4 separate regions of the Homo sapiens genome follow, and all the other regions are linked to region 1. The links come from fine-mapping of genetic effects on gene expression. A gene starts in region 1. Each other region holds a variant in brackets. All regions are shown on one strand. Distances are between the middles of the regions.

The links.
Region 2: its variant is fine-mapped to the expression of RABGGTB in whole blood (INTERVAL, PIP above 0.99).
Region 3: its variant is fine-mapped to the expression of RABGGTB in whole blood (TOPMed, PIP above 0.99).
Region 4: its variant is fine-mapped to the expression of RABGGTB in whole blood (INTERVAL, PIP above 0.99).

The regions. Positions count from the first base shown.
Region 1 is chr1:75,781,352-75,789,492 of GRCh38, forward strand. It overlaps RABGGTB (Rab geranylgeranyltransferase subunit beta), which reads left to right and starts at 4,905. Exons shown (of 9, transcript NM_004582.4): 1 at 4,905-4,923; 2 at 6,146-6,253; 3 at 7,808-8,005. The coding sequence starts at 4,921. SNORD45C (small nucleolar RNA, C/D box 45C) reads left to right here and starts at 5,721; the gene lies at 5,721-5,798. It overlaps SNORD45A (small nucleolar RNA, C/D box 45A), which reads left to right and starts at 6,538; the gene lies at 6,538-6,621. It overlaps SNORD45B (small nucleolar RNA, C/D box 45B), which reads left to right and starts at 8,126; the gene lies at 8,126-8,141. RefSeq lists enhancers at 3,487-3,706, 4,647-4,876 and a silencer at 4,937-4,996.
Region 2 is chr1:75,818,729-75,827,296 of GRCh38, forward strand. MSH4 (mutS homolog 4) reads left to right here. Exons shown (of 20, transcript NM_002440.4): 7 at 3,681-3,853. Among named protein-coding and RNA genes, the nearest start is that of MSH4, 26 kb to the left of the region's middle. The variant G/GT (reference allele first, on the strand shown) is at 4,083.
Region 3 is chr1:75,885,207-75,891,990 of GRCh38, forward strand. MSH4 (mutS homolog 4) reads left to right here. Exons shown (of 20, transcript NM_002440.4): 16 at 4,045-4,163; 17 at 5,490-5,618. Among named protein-coding and RNA genes, the nearest start is that of ASB17, 44 kb to the right of the region's middle. The variant T/C (reference allele first, on the strand shown) is at 2,403.
Region 4 is chr1:75,804,764-75,813,331 of GRCh38, forward strand. MSH4 (mutS homolog 4) reads left to right here. Exons shown (of 20, transcript NM_002440.4): 3 at 2,218-2,378; 4 at 5,934-6,044. Among named protein-coding and RNA genes, the nearest start is that of MSH4, 12 kb to the left of the region's middle. The variant CT/C (reference allele first, on the strand shown) is at 4,866.

The sequences.
Region 1 (8,141 bases):
CCAGCAACACATCAAAAAGGTTATCCACCACGATCTAATAGGCTTTATCCCTGGGATGCAAGTCTTGAATCAATAAATGTAATCCATCACATAAACAGAACCAAGGACATAAACTCATGATTATCTCAATAGATGCAGAAAAGGCCTTCGGCAAAATTCAACAGCCCTTCATGCTAAAAACTCTCAATAAACTAGGTATTGATGGAATGTATCTCAAAATAATAAGAGCTATCTATGACAAACCCACAGCCAATATCATACTGAATGGGCAAAAACTGGAAGCATTCCCTTTGAGAACTGGCACAAGACAGGGATGCCATCACTCACCACTCCTATTTAACATAGCGTTGGAAGTTCTGGCCAGGGCAATCAGGCAGGAGAAGGACATAAAGGGTATTCAATTAGGAAAAGAGGAAGTCAAATTGTCCCTGTTTGCAGATGACATGATTGTATATTTAGAAAACCCCATCGTCTCAGCCCAAAATCTCCTTAAGCTGATAAGCAACTTCAGCAAAGTCTCAGGATACAAAATCAATGTGCAAAAATCACAAGCATTCCTAAACACCAATAACAGACAAACAGAGAGCCAACTTATGAGTGAACTCCCATTCACAATTGCTTCAAAGAGAATAAAATACCTAGAATCCAACTTACAAGGGATGTGAAGGACCTCTTCAAGGAGAACCACAAACCACTGCTCAATGAAATAAAAGAGGATACAAACAAATGGAAGAACATTCCATGCTCATGGGTAGGAAGAATCAATATCATGAAAATGGCCATACTGCCCAAGGTAATTTATAGATTCAATGCCATCCCCATCAAGCTACTAATGACTTTCTTCACAGAACTGGAAAAAACTACTTTAAAGTTCATATGGAACCAAAAAAGAGCCCACATTGCCAAGTCAATCTTGAGCCAAAAGAACAAAGCTGCAGGCATCATGCTACCTGACTTCAAACTATACTACAAGGCTACGGTAACCAAAACAGCATGGTACTGGTACCAAAACAGAAATATAGACCAATGGAACAGAACAGAGCCCTCAGAAATAATGCCACATATCTACAACTATCTGATCTTTGACAAACCTGACAAAAACAAGCAATGGGGAAAGGATTCCCTATTTAATAAATGGTGCTAGGAAAACTGGCTAGATATATGTAGAAAGCTGAAAGTGGATCCCTTCCTTACACCTTATACAAAAATGAATTCAAGATGGATTAAAGACTTAAATGTTAGACCTAAAACCATAAAAACCCTAGAAGAAAACCTAGGTAATACTATTCAGGACATAGGCATGGGCAAGGACTTCATGTCTAAAACACCAAAAGCAATGGCAGCAAAAGCCAAAATTGACAAATGGGATCTAATTAAACTCAAGAGCTTCTGCACAGCAAAAGAAACTACCATCACAGTGAACAGGCAACCTACAGAATGGGACAAAATTTTTGCAACCTACTCGACAAAATGTTTGCAACCTACTCATCTGACAAAGGGCTAATATCCAGAATCTACAATGAACTCAAACAAATTTACAAGAAAAAAACAACCCCATCAAAAAGTGGGCAAAGGATATGAACAGACACTTCTCAAAAGAAGACATTTATGCAGCCAAAAAACACATGAAAAAATGCTCATCATCACTGGCCATCAGAGAAATGCAAATCAAAACCATAACGAGATACCATCTCACACCAGTTAGAATGGCAATCATTAAAAAGTCAGGAAACAACAGGTGCTGGAGAGGATGTGGAGAAATAGGAACACTTTTACTGTTGGTGGGACTGTAAACTAGTTCAACCATTGTGGAAGTCAGTGTGGCAATTCCTCAGGGATCTAGAACTAGAAATACCATTTGACCCAGGCATCCTATTACTAGGTATATACACAAAGGATTATAAATCATGATGGTATAAAGACACATGCACACGTATGTTTATTGCGGCACTATTCACAATAGCAAAGACTTGGAACCAACCCAAATGTCCAACAATGATAGACTGGATTAAGAAAATGTGGCACATATACACCATGGAATACTATGCAGCCATAAGAAAGGATGAGTTCATGTCCTTTGTAGGGACATGGATGAAGCTGGAAACCATCATTCTGAGCAAACTATCGCAAGGACAAAAAACCAAACACCCCATGTTCTCACTCATAGGTGGGAATTGAACAATGAGAACACAGGGACACACGAAGGGGAACATCACACACCGGGGACGGTTGTGGGGTCGGGGGAAGGGGGATGGATAGCATTAGGTGATATACCTAATGCTAAATGACGAGTTAATGGGTGCAGCACACCAACATGGCACATGTATACATATGTAACAAACCTGCACGTTGTGCACATGTACCGTAAAACTTAAATAATAATAAAAAAAATCAAAATAAAATAGAAGTTGAAGAAAAGGAAGAAAAACAAAGTCAGGAAACAACAGAAGCTGGATAAGATGTGGAGAAATAGGAACACTTTTACATTGTTGGTGGGAGTGTAAAGTAGTTCAACCACTGTGGAAGACAGTGTTGTGATTCCTCAAGGATCTAGAACTAGAAATAGCATTTGACCCAGTGATCCCATTACGGGGTATATACCCAAAGATTATAAACACACATGCACACGTATGTTTATTGGGCACTATTCACAATAGCAAAGACTTGGATCCAACTCAAATGTCATCAACGATAGAGTGGATTAAGAAAATGTGGCACATATACACCATGGAATACTATGCAACCATAAAAAAGGATGAGTTCATGTCCTTTGTGGGGTCATGGATGAAGCTGGAAACCATTATTCTGAGCAAAGTATCACAAGGATAGAAAACCAAACACCGCATATTCTCACTCATAGGTGGGAATTGAAGAATGAGAATACCTGGACACAGGGCAGGGAACATCACACACAGGGGCCTGTCATGGTGTTGGGGGAGGGGGGAAGGATAGCATTAGGAGAAATACCTAATTTAAATGATGAGTTAATGGGTGCAGCAATCCAACCTGGCACATGTATATCCATGTAACAAACCTACACGTTGTACACATGTACCCTAGAACTTACAGTATAATTTTTTTAAAAAAAGTAACTTCCAATATTTTTACTATTAGCACTCTCCGAAGAAGTGTTTGTGGTGGCGGTGGTGGTGGTGGGGAGGGTGGCCTGTGTGTGTGGCGAGGAGAGGGGGCGGGTACAGGGCTGGACCTTGAGATAGATAAGGCAAACAGGAAGGAAATGTGAACATTTCATTAATATTCATTTAAAAAATATTCATTGAACACTTACTACGTGTAAGCAGGCACTCTACTAATTAACAGCCATTTCAGATTTTCAGAGTGCAAAGGGCCTCAAGAACAAATGATTTATTTTTTTGAGACATGGTCTCGTTCTGTCTCACACCCTGCAGTGCAGTGGCATTATCACCGCTCACTGTAGCCTCCACCCCCTGCCCCACAGCTCAAGTAATTCTCTCACCTCAGCTTCCCCAGTAGCTGAAACCACAGGCTTGGGCAACCACGTCTGGCTCATATTTTTATTATTTGTAGAGACGGGGGTCTTGCAACATTGCCCAGGCTGGTCTGGATCTCCTGGAACCGCCTTTGCAAAATTATAACTGAGGAAATTATGGCAGTGAAAGAAATCAGACCTAACGGATTCCATCTTGCTTCTAACTTTTGTTTTTGAGACTAGTCTCGCTCTGTCGCCCAGGGTGGAGTGCAGTGGCGTGATCTCTGCTCACTGCAAGCTCCGCCTCCCGGGTTTAAGCCATTCTCCTGCCTCAACCTCAGGAGTAGATGGGACTACAGGCGCCCACCCCCACGCCCGGCTAATTTTTTGTATTTGTAGTAGAGACGGGGTTTTAGCCAGGATGGTCTCGATCCCCTGACCTCGTGATCCGCCCGCCTTGGCCTCCCAAAGTGCTGGGATTACAGGCGTGAGCCACCGGCCGCTTCTAACTTTTAAGCTGTCCTTCTTCATTCCTGAGCCTAGGCTGAACCAATTTAGGGAGGAATTCAGTTTATGGTTTGACTCTGAAACAAAATTGATAATATCCCTTTCCCAAAAAGACCGCTTTTTTGCCTGGGGACCAGTCTGCCTTTGCAGAACCAACAGATTAGCTACAAGATTAGAAATTACAGTTTAGAGGTCATGCAGCCTCTGGCTCCAAGTTTCTGAACCTCCCCAAATTGCTCCTGGGGATAACATCACTATTGTAAAACCTAAGATAAGTTCTTGAGATATTTTGCAGACCCTGCTCTCCATGGATCAGTTGAAACCACCCAGATTGGTAATTTGGCTCAACCAGTTCTGCCATCCTACCCAGGAACAGAAAACAGCAAGAAAAACTCACGTCTACCCACTATGAGTCCATCTCCAACCTGACCCATCAGCACTCCCTACTTCCCAAGCCCCTAATCGCCGAATTATCTTTAAAAACTCTGAATACTGCTTGGGGAGACTCCATTGCAAGTCCCCTGTCTTGATAAATGGGCTATCGGTCAGCAGCAGGCAAAGTGAACCACAATATTGGGTGGTTACACTCCTAGGATCAAGCAATCCTGCTGTCCGGCTTCCCAAAGTGCTGGGATTACAGGCGTAAGCCACCGCGTCCAGCTAGAACAAATGATTTCTTAAAAGCAACTCAGATATTTAAATATTATTTAAAACTGTTTCTAGACAAATCGGAGTGACTATGGGACAAGCATATGGTCGCAGGACTTTGGACGCAGGCAGTGAGGACACCTATGAGCGATCAGTGGGGTCCTACGGCAGCCGTGGAACTGCTCTGCCTTGCAGGCGAAAGTGTGGTCAGCTATATCGGAGCGCGATGGGGGCCTGAGAGGCGCATCTGCGCAGGCGCCCGGCTCCTAAGTCTACCCAGGAACTGACCCTGCTCTCTCCTTTCCCTGTTAGACATGGTAAGTGTGAGTTTAGCGCTGCTGTCCGGATGGGTTGGTAGCAGACAGGGTGGAGTAGGGTTAAGCACACTGGTCACCTTAGGATTGGTTTCCTGGTGCTGGAGAATGGTTAGGACACAGGCCTTGGAAGGTTTTTTGAGTGTGAAATATTACTCAGCGTTTTCTGCAGACCTCGCGGGCAATGCCGCTTCTAATTTTATCCAGGCCTTCTTCTGTAGGGAGGGCCTGTTAAGAGTTGAGCAGCCCGATTTCTGAACCCCTCTAAAAAGCTGTGGCTGATTGGTGGCTTTTTTTTTTCTTGGAGAGGGGGTGTCAAAGATTTCTTTAAAATCGTTAGTGATGTGGTCTCGCTTTAAGATTTTTAATGGGATCAGAAGAAAATTCGGTACTTAATCACTTCCGGTAATCTTCATGACCTGTTATAGTGACTGCAGTGTACTCTCAATGAGGAAGATATAGATACGAAAAGAACTAGAGCCGCATCACATGGGGACTTCTGCAAATACAGAGACTCGGATTAAAGGTGGAGAAGATGGAGCTAAAGGAACTGCTTATTTAATACATTTGAACAACTTTTGGGGTACTTAGAAGGTGCTTTGAAACCTGCATTTGATTAAGCAAGAATTCGCTTGCAAGTTAAGGGTTAGATTTTTTTATTTTTTAAAAATATGCTTTCTGCCACATGTAAACCGTAAGTTGTCCTGAAATGATAAGCTTTGATATTCTATGGTGTTTATTTTTTACTTATCTTTTTGAATGAAAAGTGAACAACAAGAAATGCTGGTGGTAATTTTTTGGGTCAATGATGAGTTGGCATGTATTCTGAATCTAAAGTTGATTATTACTACTTTAGCTCTAGAATTACTCTGAGACCTGAAAATTACCTGAATCGTGACTAAGACGAAGCCTGAATGATTTAAGTTCTTTTTTGTTGGATACAATTTGTTGTTGTTGTTGTTGTTTTGGTTTTGTTTTTGAGTCGGTCTCCGGTCGCCCAGGATGGAGTGCAGTGACACAACCTCAGTTCACTGCAGCCTTAATTTCCCTGGCTCAAGCGATCTTCTACCTCAGCCTCCCTAGTTAGTTACAATTTTTAAATGGAACGTTTTCCTATTACAAGATGAAATCAAGTGAAAATTGAGATGTATGTTGAATCTATGCTGTGGGGCAGAAGAACGTTGTAGAGGTAAACATTGATGAGATTACCACTTTATTTTGAAAGGGCACTCCACAGAAGGATGTTATTATCAAGTCAGATGCACCGGACACTTTGTTATTGGAGAAACATGCAGATTATATCGCATCCTATGGCTCAAAGAAAGATGATTATGTATGTATAATTTTTTTATGTTGGAAAGTTTATTTTAAAGAAGTGTGACAGTCATAAGCAGTGAGACAGTATTTATGTCTTAAAATGGCATCCAACTCCATGCAGAGAACTGAGGATGTGCTGTGCCTTTGAACTTCAGTTAAGTGTGCTTTGGACGTCTGAGGCTGTGGGCTTATTAGAATCTCAGTTTTTACCTATACTGAGAGGGCTTGCCAGACAAAGTAGATGAGGGTTTGAGGTACAAAACGGGTTTCTCTTTTTGTAGTTAGGGGTAATACTTTCAAGGTCAATGATGTGTTGGCATGTATTATCTGAATCTATTGCTGATGTGTAATAACACTTTAGCTCTAGAATTACTCTGAGACCTTGAAAAAGTTTTACCTTAAATTTTTAAATTTCGAGGAAAACTCTGGGACAATCTTAGCAAAAAGTAGTAAACAACTTAGTTAAGAGTAAATGTTTTTCCCTGTAGTATCCAAACTCAGTTGTCTTAGTCTACCGATTTGTGGGATATATGGTATGTATTAATTTTTTACTTAAGTGTTAGGTTCCCATAACCTTGAAAATACTCTATTAGCAATCATGGAGTTAAGGCCATATGGATGGGGCTGGACTCGTTTCTGCCTTTATCTGCTATCTATCTTTATGCCCTGAATTTGGGTTAGTAGCAAACTAAGATGCACCACCTGTTAAAAAAACTTCTTTTTTTCCTTTTGAGAGCTATAACCTCACTTTGTTGCCCAGACTGGAGGACAGCGGTGCGATCTGGGCTCACTGCAGCCTCCATCTCCTGGGTTTAAGTGAGCCACCTGAATAGCTGGGATTACAGGCACATTCCACCATGCCCAGCTAGTTTTTGTATTTTTCGTAGAGACTGAGTTTTGCTATGTTGGCCAGAGTGGTCTCAAACTCCTGACCTCAAGTGATCTGCCTGCCCCAGCTTTCCAAAGTGCTGGGATTACAGGCAGGAGCCACCACCCAGCCACAAAACTTCTTAAAATATAATGCATTGTTGAGTGTGGGAAAAATTTGTTTCTGGAATCCTAATACTAATTTTCATGTATCATTGATTAGCCACTGTTTTATCTGGGCTTAAACATCTTTGGCATGTTTAGGGCATTTTGATTTTTCATGTAGTTATATAATTTACTAATAGATAATAGGTTTTGTACAGAGTCCACATTAAAATAGATGTCTGATAAATATGGTATAGGTACTCGGAAAGAAATACTCTCCCTGAACTTCACTGATGAAAAAGGTAGATGTTTTTCTGTCTCTGGCTCATGGGAGAAACTAAAGCACTGTTTGTATTGTCAGCCATAGATTAACTAATCCTGTGCTTCTCAGATAATTGTTTTTTTCTGATAATAGTTGTGTCTGAAGATGGCTTCTAACATTGAGCAGCACAGATTTTAAACTCACTACTGATCAGTGCTGTTAAGGTCAGGAGAGGTAAAAATAGCAGCATGGCTAATGAGTTACCTTTGTGTTTAATCTCTTTATAACTTGTTACCAGTTCAAATGACAGATTTAAGAAATTGTGTATTATTTTAGGAATACTGTATGTCTGAGTATTTGAGAATGAGTGGCATCTATTGGGGTCTGACAGTAATGGATCTCATGGGACAACTTCATCGCATGAATAGAGAAGAGATTCTGGCATTTATTAAGTCTTGCCAACATGAATGTGGTGGAATAAGTGCTAGTATCGGACATGATCCTCATCTTTTATACACTCTTAGTGCTGTCCAGGTAAATACTAATCAAAATTGCAACGATCTTGATAGTATGTTCTCTTACTTCAGAGTTGGAAATTGAAACTGTATCAGGATTTGGTCAAAAAGTTTTGTTACAAGTGAAGCTGTCCTACAAGGTCAATGATGTAATG
Region 2 (8,568 bases), 38 kb after region 1:
CCTGGTCCTTCTCTGTATATTCCGTTTTTTTTGTTTGTTTGTTTTTTGTTTTGAGATGGAGTCTCACTCTGTTGACCAGGCTGGAGTGCAGTGGTGCAATCTTGGCTCACTGCAAGCTCTGCCTCCAGGGTTCACGCCATTCTCCTGCCTCAGCCTCCCAAGTAGCTGGGACTACAGGCACCCACCACCATGCCCAGCTAATTTTTTTTTTGTATTTTTAGTAGGGACGGGGTCTCACTGTGTTAGCCAGGACGGTCTCGATCTCCTGACCTCATGATCCACCCGCCTCGGCCTCCTAAAGTGCTGGGATTACGGGTGTAAGCCACCGTGCCCGGCCTGTTTTTGTTTTTTTTAGCTGTTTCTGTACCTAAAATTATTTTCTTGATATGATTATGTGTTTATTGTTTTTATTGTTTATTTCCCCTCGCTCTTTGTCTTGTCTTCAGTCACGGCCAGTAAACTGACAAAAGTTATTGTCAATGGCTAAGTGCGGTGGCTCATGCCTGTAATCCCAGCACCCTGGGCAGGCCAACGTGGGTGGATCACTTGAGGCCAGGAGTTTGAGACCAGCCTGGTCGCCATGGTGAAACCCTGTCTTTACCAAAAATACAAAATTTAGCCAGCATAGTGGCACACCTGTAATCCCAGCTACTCAGGAGGCTGAGGCATGAGAATCACTTGAACCCTGGAGGCAGAGGTAGCAGTGAGCCTAGATAGTGCTGCTGTACTCCAGCCTGCGCAACAGAGCAAGACTCTGTCTAAATAAATAAATAAATAAAAAGTTATTGGCAATCGCCATTAGGCTGTAAGGTCTGTGAAGACAGGAATCATGTCCGTCTTATATGCCCAGTGTTTAGCATAGAGTTTTGAATACCATAAGGGCTCAAAAAGTATTTGTTAAATATTAAAATGAATCAGATTTTTTACATGTATTATATGAAGTTGTCTAATAAATAGTCCAACTAAATGAATTTTTTTGTTTCTTTGTTTTTGTTTGTTTTAGACAGAGTCTCACTTTGTAGCCCAGGCTGGAGTGCAGTGGCGCAATCTCGGCTCACTGCAACCTCCGCCTCCCGGGTTCAAGTGATTCTTATGGCTCAGCCTCCTGAGAAGCTGGGATTACAGGTGCCTGCCACTATACCTGGCTAATTTTTGTATTTTTTTTTCAGTAGAGATGGGGTTTCACCATGTTGGCCAGGCTGGTCTTGAACTCCTAACCTCAAGTGATCCACCTGCCTCTGCCTCCCAAAGTGCTGGGAATACAGGCATGCGCCACCTTGACTGACCAGCATTCTTTAGAATAGCTCATTTCTTTATAAATCACCTAGGAATTATGAAATTGTCTTGTACTTGTCATCAGAACAAGATCATTATAGTAAATATTTATTTTAACAATATAAAAGCCCCTCCACCCTTAAGGATATATTATTAATATCTTGCTATTATGGATGGAATAAATAGACTAGAAAACTTTATATTAGTGTGAATATTGTAACTGATCTATAAAAGAAGTCATAAAGTGCAAGGAGATTCTATTCATCCTTGTTAAAGTGTAGTTCATTGACCAATAGCATATATGGGAGCTTGTTCAAAATATATCCTCATAAAATGAGTTAGGGAGGATTCCCTCTTTTTCTGTTGATTGGAATAGTTTCAGAAGGAATGGTACCAGCTCCTCCTTGTATCTCTGGTAGAATTTGGCTGTGAATCCATCTGGTCCTGGACATTTTTTGGTTGGTAAGCTATTAATTATTGCCTCAATTTCAGAGCCTGTTATTGGTCTATTCAGAGATTCAACTTCTTCCTGGTTTAGTCTTGGGAGGGTGTATGTCTCCAGGAATTTATCCATTTCTTCTAGATTTTCTAGTTTATTTGCATAGAGGTGTTTATAGTATTCTCTGATGGTAGTTTGTATTTCTGTGGGATCAGTGGTGATATCCCCTTTATCATTTTTTATTGCATCTATTTGATTCTTCTCTCTTTTCTTCTTTATTAGTCTTGCTAGTGGTCTATCAATTTTGTTTATCTTTTCAAAAAACCAGCTCCTGGATTCACAACAAAGATCAAAAGAGACAAAGAAGGCCATTACATAATGGTAAAGGGATCAATTCAACAAGAAGAGCTAACTATCCTAAATATATATGCACCCAATACAGGAGCACCCAGATTCATAAAGCAAGTACTTAGAGACCTACAAAGAGACTTAGACTCCCACACAATAATAATGGGAGACTTTAACACCCCACTGTCAACATTAGACAGATCAACGAGACAGAAAGTTAACAAGGATATCCAGGAACTGAACTCAGCTCTGCACCAAGCGGACGTAATAGACATCTACAGAACTCTCCACCCCAAATCAACAGAATATACATTCTTTTCAGCACCACACCACACCTATTCCAAAATTGACCACATAGCTGGAAGTAAAGCACTCCTCAGCAAATGTAAAAGAACAGAAATTATAACAAACTGTCTCTCAGACCACAGTGCAATCAAACTGGAACTCAGGATTAAGAAACTCACTCAAAACCGCTCAACTACATAGAAACTGAACAACCTGCTCCTGAATGACTACTGGGTACATAACGAAATGAAGGCAGAAATAAAGATGTTCTTTGAAACCAACGAGAACAAAGACACAACATACCAGAATCTCTGGGACACATTCAAAGCAGTGTGTAGAGGGAAATTTATAGCACTAAATGCCCACAAGAGAAAGCAGGAAAGATCTAAAATTGACACCCTAACATCACAATTAAAAGAACTAGAGAAGCAAGAGCAAACACATTCAAAAGCTAGCGGAATGCAAAAAATAACTAAGATCAGAGCAGAAATGAAGGAAATAGAGACACAAAAATCCCTTCAAAAAATCAAAATATATCTAAAAACTTTTTTTGCGACAAGATCTCACTCTGTCTCCACACTGGAATACAGTGGTGCAAGTATGGTTCACTGCAGCCTTGACCTCCTGGGCTCAAGCAATCCTCCCATCTCAGCCTCCTGACTAACTGGGACTAAAGGCCTGTGCCACCCTGTCCAGTTAATTTTTAGTTTTTTGTAGACTCGGGGTCTCACTATGTTGTCCATGCTGGTCTTGAACTCCCGAGTTCAAGTATTCCTCCTGCCTTGGCCTCCCAGAGTGTTGTTGAGATTATAGGTGTGAGCAACCGTGCGTGGCCCAAAATGTAGAACCTCATGCTTTTTATTAGACCTACTGAATTAGAAATTTATGTAATTGTATGCACAGTAAAGTTTAAGAATCATTGCTGGCCAGGCGCGGTGGCTCACGCCTGTAATCCCAGCACTTTGGGAGGCCAAGGCAGGCGGATCACAAGGTCAGGAGATGGAGACCATCCTGGCTAACAAGGTGAAACCCCGTCTCTACTAAAAATACAAAAATACAAAAAATTAGCTGGGCGTGGTGGCGGGCGCCTGTAGTCCCAGCTACTCAGGAAGCTGAGGCAGGAGAATGGCGTGAACCTTGGAGGCGGAGCTTACAGTGAGCCGAGATCGCGCCACTGTACTCCATACTGGGAGAGAGAGCGAGACTCTGTTTCAAAAAAAAAAAAAAAAAAGAATCATTGCTGTAGATTATAGGATTATTTAATTACAAAGTGAAATGAAATTTTCTTGCGTTTTTCTTTGTATTCTTACTGACATTTCTTGTGTTTTGAAAGGAATAATCACACTCTCTTTGGTGTTCTAAATTATACTAAGACTCCTGGAGGGAGTAGACGACTTCGTTCTAATATATTAGAGCCTCTAGTTGATATTGAAACCATTAACATGAGATTAGATTGTGTTCAAGAACTACTTCAAGATGAGGAACTATTTTTTGGACTTCAATCAGGTAAATCAATATTATTTAATATTATAAATACAAATTATTGAAAAATACAGTTGGCTTAGTTATTTTTCCATGTTTCTGAAAGACAAGTAGTGAAGGTGTTAATTCTTGTATTCTTTTATGGAAAATATTTTCCTGAAATTTTCTACTGAGTCCTGTAGTAAATAATTTCAGGGGTACATTATGTAATGTATTTTGATTTCCTGTATGCTTTTCTTTTCCATTTTTTTCT[G/GT]TTTTTTTTTGTTGTTGTTTTTGTTGTTGTTGTTCATAGATACTTTACATTCTTTTTCTCCATGGTAATCCTCAAAGATGGGAAGATTTGTTCAGACTACGTAATTATCAACGGATAGGATATATTAGTTTCCTAGGCTGCTCTAAAAACTAGTACCTACTCCATGGTTTAAAACAACAGAAAGTTTTTGTCTTACAGTTCTGGAAGCTAGAAACTTAAAATAAGGTGTCAGAAAAGCCATGCTCCCTCTGAAACCTATAGGGGAGAATCCTTTGCCCCTTTCTAGCTTTTGGTGGTCGCTGTCAGTCCATGATGGGCCTTGGCTCACAGGTTTGTCATTGCAATCTCTGCTTCTATTGTCATATGGTTTTCTCCCTGCGTGTCTTCACATTGTCGTCTTATAAAGACACTAGTCGTATTGTATTAAGACCTACCTTAATAACCTCACATTAGCTTGATTACATTTGCAAAGATGCAATTTCCAAATAAGGTCACACTAACAGATACCCGGAGTTAAGACTTCACAGTATCATTTGGGGGTCACAATTCAACCCATAACATGGGATAAGAAAATTGCCCTTGCCTCAGGGTCTGTTTCTGGAGAACTCACCCTAACACAGTCACCAACAGGCATATTGCTAATTTTTTTTTTCTTTACTTTAAATTCTGGAATACATGTGCTGAAATGTGCTGAACATGCAGGTTTGTCACATAGGTATACATGTGCCATGGTAGTTTGCTGCACCTATCAACCCATCATCTAGGTTTTAAGCCTTGCATGCATTGGGGATTTGTCCTAATGCTCTCCCTCCCCTTTCCCTCCACCCACTGACAGGCCCCAGTGTGTGATGTTCCCCTCCCTGTGCCCATGTGTTCTCATTGTTCAACTCCCACTTATGAGTGAAAACATGCAGTGTTTGGTTTTCTGTTCCTGCATTAGTTTGCTGAGGATGACGGTTCCCAGCTTCATCCATGTCCCTGCAGAGGTCATGAACTCATTCTTTTTAATGGCTGCATAGTATTCCATGGTGTATATGTGCCACATTTTCTTTATCCAGTCTATCATTGATGGGCATTTGGGTTGGTTCCAAGCCTTTGCTATTGTAAATAGTGCTGCAGTAAACATACATGTGCATGTGTCTTTATAGTAGAAAGATTTATAATTTTTTTGGTATATACTCAGTAATGGGATTGCTGGGTCAAATGATATTTCTGGTTCTAGATCCTTGAGGAATCGCCACACTGTCTTCCACAATGGTTGAACTAATTTAGACTCCCACCGACAGTGTAAAGTGTTCCTATTTCTCCACATCCTCTCCAGCATCTGTTGTTTCCTTACTTTTTAATGATCGACATTCTAACTGGCTTGAGCTGGTATCTCATTGTGGTTTTGATTTGCATTTCTCTAATGACCAGTGATGATGAGCTTTTTTTCATATGTTTGATGGCCGCACAAATGTCTTCTTTTGAGAAGTGTCTGTTCATATCCTCTGCCCACTTTTTGATGGGGTTGTTTTTTTCTTGTAAATGTTTTTAAGTTCCTTGTGGATTCTGGATTTTAGAGCTTTGTCAGATGGGTAGATTGTAAAAATTTTCTCCCATTCTGTAGGTTGCCTTTTCACTCTGATGATAGTTTCTTTTGCTGAGCAGAAGCGCTTTAGTTTAATTGATCCCACTTGTCAATTTTGGCTTTTGTTGCCATTGCTTTTGGTGTTGTAGTCATGAAGTCTTTGCCTATGCCTATATCCTGAATGGTATTGCCTAGGTTTTCTTCTAGGGTTTGTATGGTTTTAGGTCTTACATTTAAGTCTTTAATCCATCTTGAGTTAATTTTTGTATAAGGTGTAAGGAAGGGATCCAGTTTCAGCTTTCTGCATATGTCTAGCCAGTTTTCCTAGCACCGTTTATTAAACAGGGAATCCTTTCCCCATTGCTTGCTTTTGTTAGGTTTGTCAAACATATGTGGTGTTATTTCTCAGGTCTCTGTTCTGTTCCATTGGTCTATATATCTGTTTTGGTACCAGTACCATACCGTTTTAGTTACTGTAGCCTTGTAGTAGTTTGAAGTCAGGTAGCATAATACCTTCAGCTTTGTTTTTTTTTTTTTTTGCTTAGGATTGTTTTGGCTATATGATCTCTTTTTTCATTCCATATGAAATTTAAAGTATTTTTTTTTCTAGTTCTGTGAAGAAAGTCAATGGTAGCTAAATGGGAATAACATTGAATCTATAAATTACTTTGGGCAGTATGGCCATTTTCACAATATTGATTCCTCCTATCTGTGAGCATGGAATGTTTTTCCATTTGTTTGTGTCCTCTCTTATTTCCTTGAGTTCTTTTTGTAGTTCTCATTGAAGAGGTCCTTCACTTCCCTTGTAAGTTGTATTCCTAGGTGTTTTATTTTCTTCGTAGCGGTTGTGAATGGGAGTTCACTCATGATTTGGCTCTCTGCTTGTCTATTATTGGTGTATAGGAATGCTTGTGATTTTTGCACATTAATTTTGTGTCCTGAGATTTTGCTGAAGTTGTTTATCAGTTTAAGGAGTTTTTGGGCTGAGACGATGGGGTTTTCTAAATATATAATCATGTCATCTGCAAACAGAGACAATTTGACTTTCTCTCTTCCTATATGAATACCCTTTATTTCTTTCTCTTGCCTGATTGCCCTGGCCAGAACTTCCAATACTATGTTGAATAGGAGTGGTGAGAAAGGACATCCTTGTCTTGTGCCGGTTTTCAAAGGGAATGCTTCCAGTTTTTGCCCATTCAATATGATATTGGCTGTGGGTTTGTCATAAATAGCTCTTACTATTTTGAGATATGTTCCATCAATACCTAGTTTATTGACAGTTTTTTAGTATGAAGGGTGTTGAATTTTATCGAAGGCCTTTTCTGCATGTATTGAGATAATCATGTGGTTTTTGTCATTGGTTCTGTTTATGTGACAGATTACATTTAGTGATTTGCATATGTTGAACTAGCCTTCCATCCCAGGGATAAAGCCAACTTGATTGTGGTGGATAAGCTTTTTGATGTGCTGCTGGATTCGGTTTGCCAGTATTTTACTGAGGATTTTCACATCAATGTTCATCAGGGATATTGGCCTGAAATTTTCTTTTTTTGTTGTGTCTGTACCAGGTTTTGGAATCAGGATGATACTGCCCTCATAAAATGAGTTAGAGAGGAGTCCCTCTTATTCTATTGTTTGAAATAGTTTCAAAAGGAATGGTACCAGCTCCTCCTTGTACCTCTGGTAGAATTCGGCTGTGAATCCATCTGGTCCTGAGCTTTTTTTGGTTGGTGGGCTATTAATTACTCCCTCAATTTCAGAACTTGTTATTGGTCTAGTCACAGATTCAACTTCTTCCTGGTTTAGTCTTGGGAGGGTGTATGTGTCCAGGAATTTATCCATTTCTTCTAGATTTTCTAGTTTATTTGTGTAGAGGTGTTTATAGTATTCTCTGATGTTAGTTTGTATTTCTGTGGGATCAGTGGTGATATCCCCTTTATCATTTCTTATTGTGTCTATTTGATTCTTCTCCCTTTTCTTCTTTATTAGTCTGCATAGTGGTCTATTTTGTTAATCTTTTCAAAAAACCAGCTCCCCGGTTCATGGAGTTTTCGAAGGGTTTTTCATGTCTCTGTCTCCTTCAGTTCTGCTCTGATCTTAGTTATTTCTTGTCTTCTTCTAGCTTTTGAATTTGTTTGCTCTTGCTTCTCTAATTCTTTTAATTGTGATGTTAGGGTGTCGATTTGAGATCTTTTCCACTCTCTGATGTGGGCATTTAGTGCTATAAATTTCCCTCTTAACCCTGGTTTAGCTGTGTCCCAGAGATTCTGGTACATTGTCTCTTTGTTTTCATTGGTTTCAAAGTACTTCTTTGTTTCTGACTTAATTTTGTTATTTACCCAGTAGTCATTCAGGAGGAGGTTGTTTACTTTCCATGCAGTTGTGCAGTTTTGAGTGAGTTTCTTAATCCTGAGTTCTAATTTGATTGCACTGTGGTCTGAGAGACTGTTATGAATTCCATTCTGTTCCATTTGCTGAAGAGTGTTTTACTTACAATTATGTGGTCGATTTTAGAATAAGTGCTATGTGGTGCTGAGAAGAATGTATATTCTGTTGATTTGGGGTAGAGAGTTCTATAGATGTCTATTAGGTCCACTTGGTTCAGAGCTGGGTTCAAGTCTTGAATATCCTTGTTAATTTTCTGTCTCATTATTGTCAGATTCGCCAAGGTTGAAACAAAAGGAAAAAATGTTAAGGGAAGCCAGAGAGAAAGGTCAGGTTATTTACAAAGGGAAGCCCATGAGACTAACAGCGGATCTCTGTGCAGAAACCCTACAAGCAAGAAGAGAGTGGGGGCCAATATTCAATATTCTTAAAGAAAAGAATTTTTAACCCAGAATTTCATCCAGCCAAACTTAATTTCATAAGTGAAGGAGAAATAAAATCCTTTACAGACAAGCAAATGCTGAGGGATTT
Region 3 (6,784 bases), 100 kb after region 1:
ATATATACCTTCTATATATAATATAAATATATATATTATATACATTATATATATAAAATATGTATATAATACCGTATATATACTACGTAGTATATATAGACTCACACTGGGGGTGTGTGTGTGTGTGTGTGTGTGTATATATATATATATAAAGGTATGTAACATTTTGGTTTTCACATATACTTTCACCCTTTTCCTCCACCTCCCACCTCAGTTGGTATCCTGAGTGTGTATATACATATATATATATATATGTATATATACACACACACACACAAACACTGGGTACATATATATATACATATAACCTTCACATTTATTTCACATTTATATAATGAAGGTAATATATATGTATATGTAAAGTATTATATGTATTATATGTATATGTATTATATATTACATATGTATTATATATAATATATATTATATATTATTATATATTATATATTATATATTATTATTTATATAATGTATTATATATTATATAGTATATATAGTATATATAATGTATTATATATTATATAGTATATATAGTATATATAATGTATTATATATAGTATATATAATGTATTATATAGTATATATACTATATAATGTATTACATATTATGTATAGTATATGTAATGTATTATATATTATATAGTATATGTAATGTATTATATGTATTATATAGTATATATTATATATGATGTATTATTTAGTATATATAATATATATGATGTATTATATAACATATATAATATATATGATGTATTATATAGCATGTATAGTATATATGATGTATTATATAGCATGTATAGTATATATGATGTATTATATATAGCATGTATAGTATATATGATGTATTATATATAGCATGTATAGTATATATGATGTATTATATATAGCATGTATAGTATATATGATGTATTATATATAGCATGTATAGTATATATGATGTATTATATATAGCATGTATAGTATATATGATGTATTATATATAGCATGTATAGTATATATGATGTATTATATATAGCATGTATAGTATATATGATGTATTATATATAGCATGTATAGTATATATGATGTATTATATATAGCATGTATAGTATATATGATGTATTATATATAGCATGTATAGTATATATGATGTATTATATATTATATATGGTATATATGATGTATTATATATTATATATGGTATATATGATGTATTATATATTATATATGGTATATATGATGTATTATATATTATATATAATATATATGATGTATTATATATTATATATAATATATATGATGTATTATATATGATGTATTATATATAATATATATGATGTATTATATATATTATTATCTATTATATACGATGTATTATATGCAAGTTATTATGTATAATATATAATGTATTATATATTATATAATGTATAATATATAAATATATAAATATATAATTATGTATAAATATAGAAATATATACATTATACATTATATACATTATAATGTATAATATATAAATATATTATATATAAATGTATACATTATATATAAATATATTATATACATTATATATAAAATATGTATATAGTTATTATACCTTATATATACTAAACAGTATATATATATACTCACACTGGTACATATATATATATATTATATATATATATATATTACCTTCACATTTATTTCACATTTATTCTCCTAGAAACTCCATAAGAAAGTTGTATTTGAAATCTAAGTTCTGCTCTCTGAGGGCAGGACCCATGTCTGTTTATTTACCCTAACACATAGAAGGGCTTCAATAAATAGGTATTGAATTTCTATAAAATGAGGAAAGTCAGGCTCAAAGACTTGCCCAAGATCACCCAGTATAAATCCTTTACCTTAGTCTTCCCCACTTGCCCCATTATGCCGTTTGACTCTGTGTCTCCACCCAAATCTCACCTTGAATTGTAATCCCACGTGTCAAGGGAGGGACCTGGTCGGAGGTGATTAGATCATGGGGGGCGGTTTCCCCAATGTTGTTCTTGTGATAGTGAATTCTCACAAGATCTGATGGTTTAAAAGTGTTTGGCAGTTCCCACCTTGCTCTCTCCCTCTCCTGCTCGCATATGAGGACGGTCCTTGCTTTCTATTTGCCTTCCGTCATGATTGTAAGTTTCCTGAAGCCTCCCCAGCCATGCAGAATTGTGAGTTAATTAAACCTCTTTTGTTTATAAATTACTCAGTCTCAGGGATTTTATAGCAGGGTGAAGCAGCAGACTAATACACCCCAGTAGCTAATATTGAGTGTTCACTATGCCCATCACTGCTGTATATACCTTGCATGATAATACGCATTTCACGTTTATCTGCCTGGAAACTGGAAGTGTTATCTGGTTAACACTCATAAAAATATGATAAAGATTATTAACTCCATGTTA[T/C]AGATGAGTAAGTCAAAGTATTGAGAAGGAATTTGTCCAAGATTATATAGTTTGTAAGAGGCAGCACAAGGATTCAAACCCATGCAGCCTGACAAATAATCTTTGCCCTAAATTAGCAAATTGTCCCCACCCTTCTCCAGAATCTTAAGAAGGTAGCAGGTCATTCCTGTTTTCTTGGAAATGGACAGTTTGTTTATGTTTTTGTTTTTGTTTTTAGCCAGAAAGTTCTGATTCAAATTCTGGCTCTATCACTTCATTATTTATTTTCAGCAAACATTTATCATGAGATTATGTGTCAGAAGCCACTCTAGGTTCATAATTCATCCTTTTAGGAAAACAAGCAAAAAAATAGAGTAGAATGGGGGAGATACATCTTTCTAGTTTTTATAATTTATTGGGTTATTTTGAAAATTAGGAAGAGTGGATATAAAATATCTAGTATGTCGAATGGTATAGGTGCCGTTATTATAATTACTACTGTTATGATTATTACTTTTATTTTCATTAATATTAATCTGACTTTTGGTTTCTTTTCTTGCTACTCCTTATTCCTCAGAGTTAAGCCCTATTCTTTACCCTTTTTTTGTTTTTAATCTTGGAGTAATCTGGCTTTGGTTTTTTTGCTGCTATTATTTCACCATTTTACCTATACAGAATTCTGTATATGTGGTACGTTTCCCTTTCAACTATTTGTATATTTTATCTTCTTATAATGTTAGAATGCATTTTAGATTTTATTCTATATTGAGACTGGTGCATTAATCAGATTGATTTGTTTTCAAAAAACGAATATTTTAGATGAGTTAGCACAATAACTTCTTGGGCAGAAACAGTCTTGTGGGTGAAAATTCACCTTTTTTTTCTTTTTATTAAATGTTTTGCTTTTATTTTGCTTCTGAATGTTTCTCCATGTTTGTAATCACAGATATTTCTTTATATCTTTTTATAATGATTTTATTAACTTCAGCTTTATAGGCATTTTCTTCAGATTTTCATATTTCTTTTTTTAATTTATTTTATTTTTGACATAATAATTGCACGCATTTAAGAGATACATAGTGATGTTTGAATACATACCATGTATAATGATTAGATCAGTGTAACTGGCATATTATATTCATAAGCTTTATAAGCATTCCCTTCATATTTTAATATTTTGAATGTTATCATTCAAGTAAGTTATTTAAAATTTTTATTGTGTTTATAACTGTCTGTTTGTTATGTACTTGAACATTTACTGCCTTATTTGAACTTCTGGATAACTTTGTACAGTAGGTAGGGCAACTTTTTTTTTTTTTTTTTTTGAGACGGAGTCTCATTCTGTCGCCCAGGCTGGAATGCAGTGGCGCGATCTCGGCTCACTGCAGGCTCCGCCTCCCGGGTTCACGCCATTCTCCTGCCTCAGCCTCCCGAGTAGTTGGGACCACAGTTTCCCCGCAACACGCCCGGCTAGGACTGGGAAAGTTTAAGTGCTGTCTAAGCTTTTATAATAAGGGATAGAACTGGGGTCATGTCTTCTAATGCCATATCTAGTGTTCTTTCTACCATATAATCCTTGTAAATAATCTGAGAAGTACAAAATGTTATTAGTAATTATATTTTATAAACACATTTCAGTTTATCTTGACCTTATATTTTACAGGATCATATGTTCCAGCAGAATATTCTTCCTTTAGAATTGCTAAACAGATTTTTACAAGAATTAGTACTGATGATGATATCGAAACAAATTCATCAACATTTATGAAAGAAATGAAAGAGGTACCCAAACAAAACTTTTCTTATGTTAAAAACATTAAATTCTCTCACTAATGGCCAGTTATCACATAAAATATTTTTATACTAAAATATGCAGATGTTGCTTATACCCTTTTCTAAGAGCCAGAGGGCAGTCAAAGACAGCCTCCTAATTTCTGTTTTATGTGGAAATGGAAGACAATGTTTAAGTGAAAATATAATTTTAAGAGAAAGAGCTAGCATTATTAAGTAATAAAAGTGTGCCTAAATGTTTTTATAGGAAATACGTAAAAGACTTCAGAAAATGATAACTGGTTCAGTACCATTTTGCATAGTATTTATTGTTCTTCATAGGCTTGATTTTAAAACAAAAGATTACTGTGTTAGAAGGGTTTCAAAAATCATCCTCTTCTTTGTTCTCATAGAATTTTCACTCCCTGTACCAAAGTATCACCTATTTCTGATTGAGCAAACGTCAAGTAGGCTTTAGAACTGAAGGAATTAAGTGTAACTCTTGGGATATCTGTATTATGAATTTAGGATCACTGTTTAGTTGGAAAATTTTCTTCAAGTAGATAGGTGGTGACTAAAGTTATCATTTGTCCCATGATTTATATAATTATTTATTGTGTATTGAATATCTATAATAGATCGTAGCAATATATTAGGCACTTAAGGTATATTTTTAAATGGTCCTAGCACTCAAAAAGCTTAGTCTCATAGAAAGGTAAAATGTCCATCAAAGTTACTATTGTGTCATAATATAATAAAGATAAAATTCTATTTTTGAGAAAGAGGTTAATAATCTTCAGTGGAAAAGAGCACTTCTGTCAATTTAAGTCTTAGTCTCCATTGGTCATGGATTTAAATTTATTTGTTAAACCAAGAATCAAGACTTAGGTATTTTTTCTTAAATTTTTCTTTACTTCATCTTTACAGGGTATAGAGTAATACTTAAATAAATTTGAGAGATGGTTTTGGATACTTTATAGCAGTAATTGATTAGTCATTTGTGGAGAAGAAAATGACCATCTTTGTGCTTAGTTTAAACATTTAATTTATTGCATTTTTTCACTGTATCTAAAGCATCAATATTTTAGATAATGGTTATTTACTCTGTTGTCTCATATACATATGCATATGTCTATTTATGTACACATCAGCTATTCTACTGGAATTATTAGTCATGAGATTTTTAGAAAAGAAAACTATTATTTTCTGCTCAGCAGGATGTCTCTAAGAATACATTTCAGATGAACTTATAAAGAGACTGGGTTTCTCCTCATTTTTTCCTGTGATATTGACAGCTGTTTGGTTACAATGAATAAATATTAAAATTATATATTTCAGATAGCATATATTCTACATAATGCTAATGACAAATCGCTCATATTAATTGATGAACTTGGCAGAGGTACTAATACGGAAGAAGGTATTGGCATTTGTTATGCTGTTTGTGAATATCTACTGAGCTTAAAGGTATTCTTTTATTTTAAGTATATTGATTTTGAGTCCTTCTTTATGTATCCTTTTATTATTATTGAATTTTATGGACACCCACAAATAGCTTTTAAAACAATTTAGATAGTAAACACATATCATCGCATTTATATTTTTGTTCCTTCATTTCCAATGAAAGTGGGAATCATTAGTTTGATAACCATGATATAGATAAGGAAAAGATGAAATCAAGAAATTCAAATAATGCAAAATTAGTCAGTTGGCTTTAATTTCATCAAATTCAGTAGCAAAATATGAAGGTCTTTCAGTAATTGCCTCCATGTGCAATGATGTTGACTATGATGTTACAACAGGAAGGAAAGCACTAGGCAACTCAGGTAACTTTACAGAAAATCTATTTTACCTACCTAAGTAAATTTTATTCCTTTAAAGAAAGTAGTTTTTCACAAATCAACTATGTAAAACATTGATTTTTGCTCTATTAAATTAATTTATAAAATATCTTTTTAAATGGTCACTCACAATATATACAGATATGAACAAAACTGAAATAAAAATACTTTTTCTTATTTAAGATACCTTAAAATGTCCCTAAGATGAAGTTATTTACCTTAAATGAAAGTCCATAATGATTTATTTATTTTTATTATATTTATTTATTTTTTGAGACAGGGTCTCACTCTGTTGCCCATGCTGGAGTGCAGTGGCGCAATCTTGGCTCACTGCAACTTCCACCTTTCAGGCTCCAGCAATCCTCCTGCCGCAGCCTCCTGAGTAGCTGGGACTGCAGGCATGCACCATCATGCTTAGCTAATTTTTGTATTTTTAGCTGTGACGGGGTTTCACCATGTTACCCAGGCTGGTCTTGAACTCCTGGGCTCAAGTGATCCACTCACTTCAGCCTCCCAAAGTGCTGTGATTGCAGGCTGAGCCGTCATGCCCAGCTCGTAATGATTTATTATATAGAATGAGAAAAATCTATTTTATGCTTAAAAGTATGTGATAAATCAAAAGTAATGGTAATAAATAATATTAGTCTTTGTAATTTTGAATGTGTCAGTTTCAATTTCTCATATAAATAAAGTGCATATATTACTTAAGATTAAAAGCTAATTAGTGCCTCTGATGGTTAATTTTACATGTCAGTTTGACTGGGCCACAGAGTGCCCAGACATTTGGTCAAA
Region 4 (8,568 bases), 24 kb after region 1:
TCCCAAAGTGCTGGGATTACAGGCATGAGCCACTGTGCCTGGCTGACCTTTTTATTTACTTTTATTTTTATTTTTATTTGTTTGAGATGGAGCCTTGCTCTGTCGCCCAGGCTGGAATGCAGTGGCACAACTTGGCTCACTGTAACCTCTGCCTCCTGGATTCAAGCAATTTTCCTGCCTCAGCCTCCCGAGTAGCTGAGATTACAGGCATGCACCACCACGCCTGGCTAATTTTGTATTTTTAGTAGAGACAGGGTTTTACCATATTGGCCAGGCTGGTCTTGAACTCCTAACCTCATGATCCGCCCACCTTGGCCTCCTAAAGTGCTGGGATTACAGGTGTGAGCCACCGCACCCAGCCCTGACCTGTTTATTTTTAAGTAGAAAATAAATACCAAGTTCCAGTGGAAATTCAATAGACATATAAAAGACATCTCTAAGGTTCTAAAAATACATTTATGCTGTTATCTCTCTGTTGTAAATAACATAATAATGAGCATCCTAATACATAAAGCTTTTTTCTGAGTCTCTTATTATTTCCTTAAAACACACCCTTAGAAGTCAAATTACTGAAACATAGGGAAATTACCTTTTTTATTTTTTTTAATTACCATTTTTTGTTTTTTTTTTTTTTTGGTTTTTGAGACGAAGCCTTGTTCTATTGCCCAGGCTGGAGTGCAGTGGCACCATCTCGGCTCATTGCAACATCCACTTCCTGGGTTCAAGTGATTCTCCTGCCTCGGCCTCCCGAGTAGCTGGGATTACAGGCATGCATCACCATGCTCAGCCAATTTTTTTTTTTTAGTAGAGATGGGGTTTCGCCATGTTGGCCAGGCTGGTCTCGAACTCCTGGCCACAAGTGATCCTCCCACCTTAGCCTCACAAAGTGCTAGGATTACAGTTATGAGCCACTGCGCCTGGCCAAAATTACCAGTTTTTAAGAATCTCAGATATATTGCCAAGTTTCTTTTGAGAACTGGACTAATTTTTAATTCCATCAATAGTGTATAAGGTAAGCCAATCTTACTCTATCCTCATCATTACTAACTTCTAAAATTTATTATGATTATTGGCTAATTTAGTAATCATCATCATCATCATAAGATTATTATTAAATTAGCCAATAATCATTATCATAATAAATTGTATTGGTTAATTTATTGGTTATTATGGTATGCTCTTATTAACAATGTGTAAGAGTCCACTTCAACATTTGATATTGTTAGACTCAATATTTTCCAACCTAACAGTTGTAAAATACTACCTGAGTTTTTTATTTTCTGAGTTTGCATTTTCCTGATTACTAGTGAGATTATCTTTTTCTGTACTTTTGGGCTATATATCTTTAATAATGGTCTGTGAAATTAATGTTCATGTCTTTTACTCATTTTTCTTTAGGCTTATTTTTCTGGATTTGTAGCAATACTTTATATATTCTGAGTAATAAATATTTTGATGACTTTTCTGTTTGGTTTTTTTTTTTTTTTTTTTTTTTTTTTTTTGAGAAGGAGTCTCGCTCTGTAGCCCAGGCTAGAGTGCAGTGGCGCGATCCCGGCTCACTGCAAGCTCCGCCTCCCGGGTTCACGCCATTCTCCTGCCTCAGCCTCTCGAGTAGCTGGGACCACAGGCACCTGCCACCACGCCTGGCTAATTTTTTGTATTTTTAGTAGACATGGGGTTTCACCGTGTTAGCCAGGATGGTCTCGATTTCCTGGCCTTGTGATCCGCCCACCTCGGCCTCCCAAAGTGCTGGGATTACAGGCATGAGCCACCGCGCCCGGCCTTTTCTGTTAGTTTCTATGTTTCTAGTTCTTTTTTAACTCTGATGGGTCATTATGTCTAGCTGTGTGCCAATATCACACCATCTTTAGCTTTATAATAAGTCTTGATATTTTGTAGGACAGCCTTGCCACCTGTACCCTCCACAAGCCACCTTACTCTTCTTTAGAGGAGTCTTGATTCTTCTTGGCCCTTTGCTCTTCCATGTAAATTTTGGGCCAATTTTTCAAGCTCCACCAAAAAACATATTGAGGTTTTGATTGAAATTATAGTTGTACTGAACCAATAGATCCTTTAGGGAGAATTGAAATAAGAGGCTAACTGATATCTACAGATTGCATTATTTTGTCCTCTTGATTAAGAATTTCCTAGTTTTTTTTAAAAAAAGAAATGATTATTATCAATGTTTATATCTTTTCTTTATTTAAAAATTTACAGCTTCATCCTCATCTGCGATTTCTGCACACTCCCCATCAGTTATTGTAGCTGTTGTAGAAGGGAGAGGACTTGCCAGAGGTGAAATAGGAATGGCAAGTATTGATTTAAAAAACCCCCAAATTATACTATCCCAGTTTGCAGACAACACAACATATGCAAAGGTAAGTATTAATAATTCTAGAAAATGGTTGCTCTGTTAGGCAGTATCTAGAGTTTAAAGTCAGTGCCTTCCCAATTTGTTTACTTTTTGGTAGAATAAAGGTTATTCATTATTATGTCAATGTAAATACTCTGAATTAAAATAAAACTGTGTTATATCTGATTTTTATTTTTTAAATATATTTTGTCCAAAAAGAGTGTGTTTTACTGTTATTTAAATAAGCTATTGTTAGTATTAGTTTCTAAAATTAACATCTTCAAATTAATAATTTCTGGATTTATTCCAAAGGTAATATATGTGATAATGTGGTACTGATCATAATCCTTAAAGACACAATCCCAAATGCCATAATCCCGATGTTCAAATCTTGAAAGATCAAAATCCTTAATGTTGAAATCCTGAAAGCTTAATTCTAGGGAAGGGATTAATGCGTTTTTGGTTGTACACAAGATAGTTGCATCATGTTAGATGCATCATATTAGGCAATACTACTACCTTATTATTTTATTTGGAAATTAGGTATGGTTTAAGGAGATGCATAGGGGTGCCAAATTGGCAAGGGATAGACTTGTGGATTTAAGTATAGGTGACAACTTGACTGTATTAAAAAAATACCTAGTAAAGCATTATTTGGGCTGTGTCTGTGAGGTTGCTTCCAGAGGAGATGAGTGGGTGAGTCTGAGTGGACTAGGCGGTGAAAATCTGCCCTTAGTGTTGGTGGGCACCTTGCAGTTGACCAGGGCCCAGAGAGAGCAAATACAGAAATTGCATTTGTCTCTCTCTAAGAGCTGGGACAGACTCTTCTGCTGCTGCCTTGGACATCAGAAATTTGACTCCACAGAAGTTCGTTATCACAACATTGACTGTGTGTAAGCATTGTGCATATACATTAAAATGTTGAAATTTTTTTGATAAATGAAGACATGTCCTTTTTGTACATCATTTATTTGTGAAAGATAAAATTTATTTCTTGAAATCTTAGCTCTTCAGGCAACTGTGTATGTGGTGACCCATAGAAGTTTTTGATCTATCTCATCAAAAGACTTAGGTTGTCCCTGGTGGTATTTCAGATGACCATATTTATGAAGCTTGGTGCAGACAATTACCAACCATAGTGATATGCATTTATACATTTTGCTTTTTGACTAATTTCTAATTTTTGACTAATTTTTTTGTGAATACAATTTGTCTGCTCATAACTGTTATTATACCTGTGTGACTGTCATTAGTACACTTAAGTGTTCATGCTTGCAAAAAAGTTATTATTGCCTATTTTATTGTGTAAAGTGGCCTATGAAGTGTACTGTTCTGTTTTTATATGTTTCTCAAATAAATCCCCTTTTAAAAATGCAAATCAATGTCTTAAAATTGTTTTTGAAGTTATTTCTTCCAGAACTGTGTTTTTGGGATTTTGGTCTTTTGGTATTGGGGTTCTGGGGATTTTTAGACTTTAAGGATTTTGCTCTTTTGGGATTTTGACATTCAGGATTATGGCATTTGAGATTGTGTCTTTCAGGATTATGGCCCAAACCCATGATAATGCTAACTCCAGAGAGTTATTTCTACTGAACTGTATTTGAATTTTATTTTTTCAGAGGTAAAGAAAACTAGTATCTTAGATCAGTCAGAATTTAGCCTCTTAATTTCTTGCCTTCACTTCTTATTTTGCCTTCATTTTATATCACTCATCATTCATTTGGGCCACTCGCCTATTGTCATGGGAATTTGCATGATCTATCAGGTAGAGATAGTTTACTCCTAATTTCTATGTTATTTAACTCAATTATTATTTTATTTTATTTTTAAAAGGTCTTGCTCTTTTGCCTAGGCTGAAGTGCAGTAGCATGATCGTGACTCACTGCAGCCTCCCACCTCAGCCTCTTGAGTAGCAGGGACCACAGGCATGCACCACCACATAGAGCTGATTTTTAAATTTTTTTTGTATAGATGGGGTCTTGCTCTGTTACCCAAGCTAGTCTCAAATTCCTTAGACTCGAGTGATCCTGCCCCCTCAGAAGTTGAATTGCCCCTCGGGTTCCCAAAGTGCTAGAATTATAGGCATGAGCCATCGAGCCTAGTTAATTATTATTTTGAAGATGTGATCTAGTGTTTTATTTCAAGTGTTTCATTATTTTTTAATTCTCTTCCTTTAGTCCCTCTTTATGGTCCTCCAGTGTGTAGACTTCCCTTTCCTAATAATTAATTTTTTATTATACCTAACAACCTTAATGATACTAGTATTGCATACTAACTTCATCTGTAGGTATTTTATACATTTTTACAATTTCAAAAGAGTAGGAAAAAAGTTTTTAAAAAAAAGGAATGTTAGACAAATTGAGAATTTCTGTGTTTGGAATAGTTCTAAGAAATACACCTTATTTTATGAAAAGCTAAGCCATAAGGCAGATGTTTCTCATCTGTGTTTATGTACTTTTCAACAGTTAATCTGTACCAGTGTGGCCATACTGATTGTATTGCCATAGTTACC[CT/C]TTTTTTTTTTTTTTTTTTTTGAGACAATGTCTCACTTTGTTGCCCAGGTTGCCAGGTTGGAGTGCAGTGGCACAATCTTGACTCACTGCGACCTCTGCCTTCCGGGTTCAAGCAATTCTCCTGCCTCAGCCTGCCTCAGCCTCCCAAGTAGCTGGGATTACATGTGCACACCACCAAGCCTGGCTAATTTTTGTATTTTTAGTAGAGACAGGGTTTCACCATGTTGGCCAAGCTGGTTGTGAACTCCTGACCTCAAGTGATGCAGTCGCCTTGGCCTCCCAAAGTGCTGAGATTACAGGCGTGAGCCACCTCCCCTGGCCCATAGTTACCCTTATTGGATGTATTTACATTTTTCACAGAGTATTTGGATAAAATACTAAGTATAAGAATTTATTTAAAAACAATTTTATTTTGGGAATATATATTTGATAAGTTCAAATTAATTTTTGAACTTAAGGCTGTTAGAAACTATTGTGAGTAAAATATAGCCTATTTTATGACAGTATTTTATGTTAGTAGTTATATAGGAGATATATGTTCAATATACTACCATTAGAAATATATATACATATATATTTTATTGTTATTGGTGGTGGTGGTGTTTGTTTGTCTGTTTTTGAGACAGATTTTCCCTCTGCCACCTAGACTGGCGTGCAAAGGTGCCTGGTGTGATCTCAGCTCACTGCAACCTTTGCCCCCTGGGCTCAAACTATTCTCATGCCTCAGCCTCCTGAGTAGCTGGGATTACAGGCATGCACCACCATGCTCGGGTAATTTTTGTATTTTTTTTTTTTTTTTTTTTTTAGTAGAGACAGGGTTTCACCATGTTGGCCAGGTGGGTCTCGAACTCCTGGCCTCAAGTGATCTGCCCACCTCAGCCTCCCAAAGTGCTGGGATTACAGGTGTGAACCCACCTGGCTAGAAACATATTTTAATTGAAATATATCATTAGGACAGTTATAATTTTGTGTATCTATGAATTAATTTTAAATACTTATCTCAGAAAAATATGAAACTTTTATTTCCTAAGCTTTATTTAAGAAATTGTTTATTCAAATGATTTCAGGTGATCACTAAACTTAAAATTTTATCACCTTTGGAAATAATAATGTCAAATACTGCTTGTGCTGTGGGGAATTCCACCAAGTTGTTCACTCTGATCACAGAAAATTTCAAGGTAAGTGATGTTTACTGTTTGTAACATTCAAGATCTAATCACTTATTTATTTATTTGTTATTTATTATTTATTTATTTTTTTGAGACAGAGTTTCACTCTGTCACCCAGGCTGGAGTGAAAGGGCGTGATCTCGGCTTACTGCAACCTCCAGCTCCCGAGTTCGAGTGATTCTCCTGCCTCAGCCTCCCAAGTAGCTGGGACTACAGGCGTGTGTTACCACACCCAGCTAATTTTTGTATTTTTAGTAGAAATGGGGTTTCACCATGTTGGCCAGGCTAGTTTCAAACTCCTGACCTCAAGTGATCGATCTGCCTTGGCCTCCCAAAGTGCTGGGATTACAGGCATGAGTGAGTCACTGTGCCCGGCCCTAATCACTTTATTTAAAATTTACTTAATAATATCATTATAAAGAACAATAATTTTAGTAACTTTATATTTAGTGTCCTAAAGTAGTCACTAAATACAAATCCTAATCTAAGGGACTGTTAATACAGATAATAAAAATGATAGGGAATTTACTTATTTGATTTGGCACCCTGATCTACTTTAAACAAAAGAAAACATGTTTTAGGTAATAAGGAAGTTTCTCAGATATACAAGGGGCAGACCCATAGAGAAAGCATAAGTTTCCCTTACATGTATTTTCCTGGAAACTACTTATTGTGCTGTCAGACTGGTTGAAATTGAAGTTCTTAGGGGATAGCAGCTATCAGCAAGTACCTTTTTCTATAGGGAATTTAATTTGTATTACAGAATTGTTTCAGCTTCCCCTGATAACATGTACTGCCTTCCAGTTAGCCTGCTACTCTAGTGTCTATCTGTAGGACTGTAGTGGGTAAGCACTGTGGAACCTTATCCAACAAGAATGGGGGCTGTGGCTCCAAACCAAGTAGACAGCATTGCAGTTGGAATAATTCCTTAGGAATGCAAATTATTTTCAGAATATACTATATTTTGTTATGTTTTTAGACTTATCTTTTACTTTAACACATTTGGAACCAAGCTGAGGTTTGGAGTCCAATGAGTTCCTTTCCTGTTCCTAATATATTCAGCATCTGCAGTCATATAAGATTTGTCATGGTGCTCTTGGATTTCCTGTATAGATGAGCTGCCTTTGACTCATTGCCAGAGATAGTCCCTATTCTAAATCTATTGTCTCTATTAGACGAATCACTTTATCTGTTCTTTTTCATTTATAACTTTATACTTCTTTTCATTATGCCTATTTATCCATACCTTTCCAACTTTCATGTTTTGTTGTTGTTGTTGTTGTTGTGATTAGGCCTTATAATTCTTTTGGTTATAAATAAGAGAAATCTAATGTAAACTACCTTATGCAAAAAAGGAAATGTATTGGCTTATGTAACTGGGAAGTCAATGGTTGAATAGATCCTGTTCCTACTGTCAAAGGTAAACAAAGCCAAACACTAGCTAAATATTTTAATCAGTAATATGCTGTTGCAACAGAGAAAAGAGTCCAGTGTGGACTGAATTGAACTTCGGTTTATACTGGGCATTTTAATGGGAGACTAAGGGAATAAGGAGGAGTAAGCACAAGCTCAGTAGAGTCAGGGAAGTGAAAAATTATTATAACAAAAAGTAAGACCAGGTGCGGTGGCTCATGCCTGTAATCCCAGCACTTTCAGAGGCCGAGGAGGGTGGATCACAAGGTCAGGAGATCGAGACCATCCTGGCTAACATGGTGAAACCCCATCTCTACTAAAAATACAAAAAAATTAGCCAGGCCTGGTGGCACGCGCCTGTAGTCCCAGCTACTCGGGAAGCTGAGGCAGGAGAATCGCTTGAACCTGGGAGGCAGAGGTTGCAGCGAGCCGAGATTGTGCCATTGCACTGCAGCCTGGGCAACAGAGCAAGACTCCATCTCAAAAGAACAACAACAAAAAATCTGGGTTTGCTAACTGGCACTTACCAAAGTTAGGCTCCTATTCTCCCACAGAGGATAGGAGACAGGGACCCTATTTTTAGGTGTTAAGTGGAATAAACAGTAAATTTTTTTTGGCAGCCTGAGTTTTCTTAGGCTGGCACTTTATGAGAGGCTAAGGTCATCCTAGGGATGTGGCTTTGAGCAGTTAGAAACAATGTTAGTGTTTCGTTCAAGTCTTTATAGGCCAGTTGGAGGCTTAGTTGAGAAGAAGGCTTATAGTAGCCCAGGTAGAGTTTGGTCAAAGAGAGCATCTTTATCACTACTCTCATTCCCCATATCATCCTTTTTCTACTGCAGATAGTTTACTTCTATGAGATTTAAGAAGATGATTGCTAATGGCTCAAGGCTGATGTCATCTCAGCTTAGCTAACCCAGAGGGAAAATAATTTCTTTATTCCAGTGTCCATGTATGAATTCCAGGGAAGGATGCTGACTGATTCCGCTTTGTTCAGTTTCTCACACGTTAGAGTAATCACTATTTCTGGGGGTAGATACACTATAATTGACTAATCCTTTTGCTGTGAGACACAGAATACTATGATAGCTAGGCCTTCCAGAATCACATGGAATGGGGGATA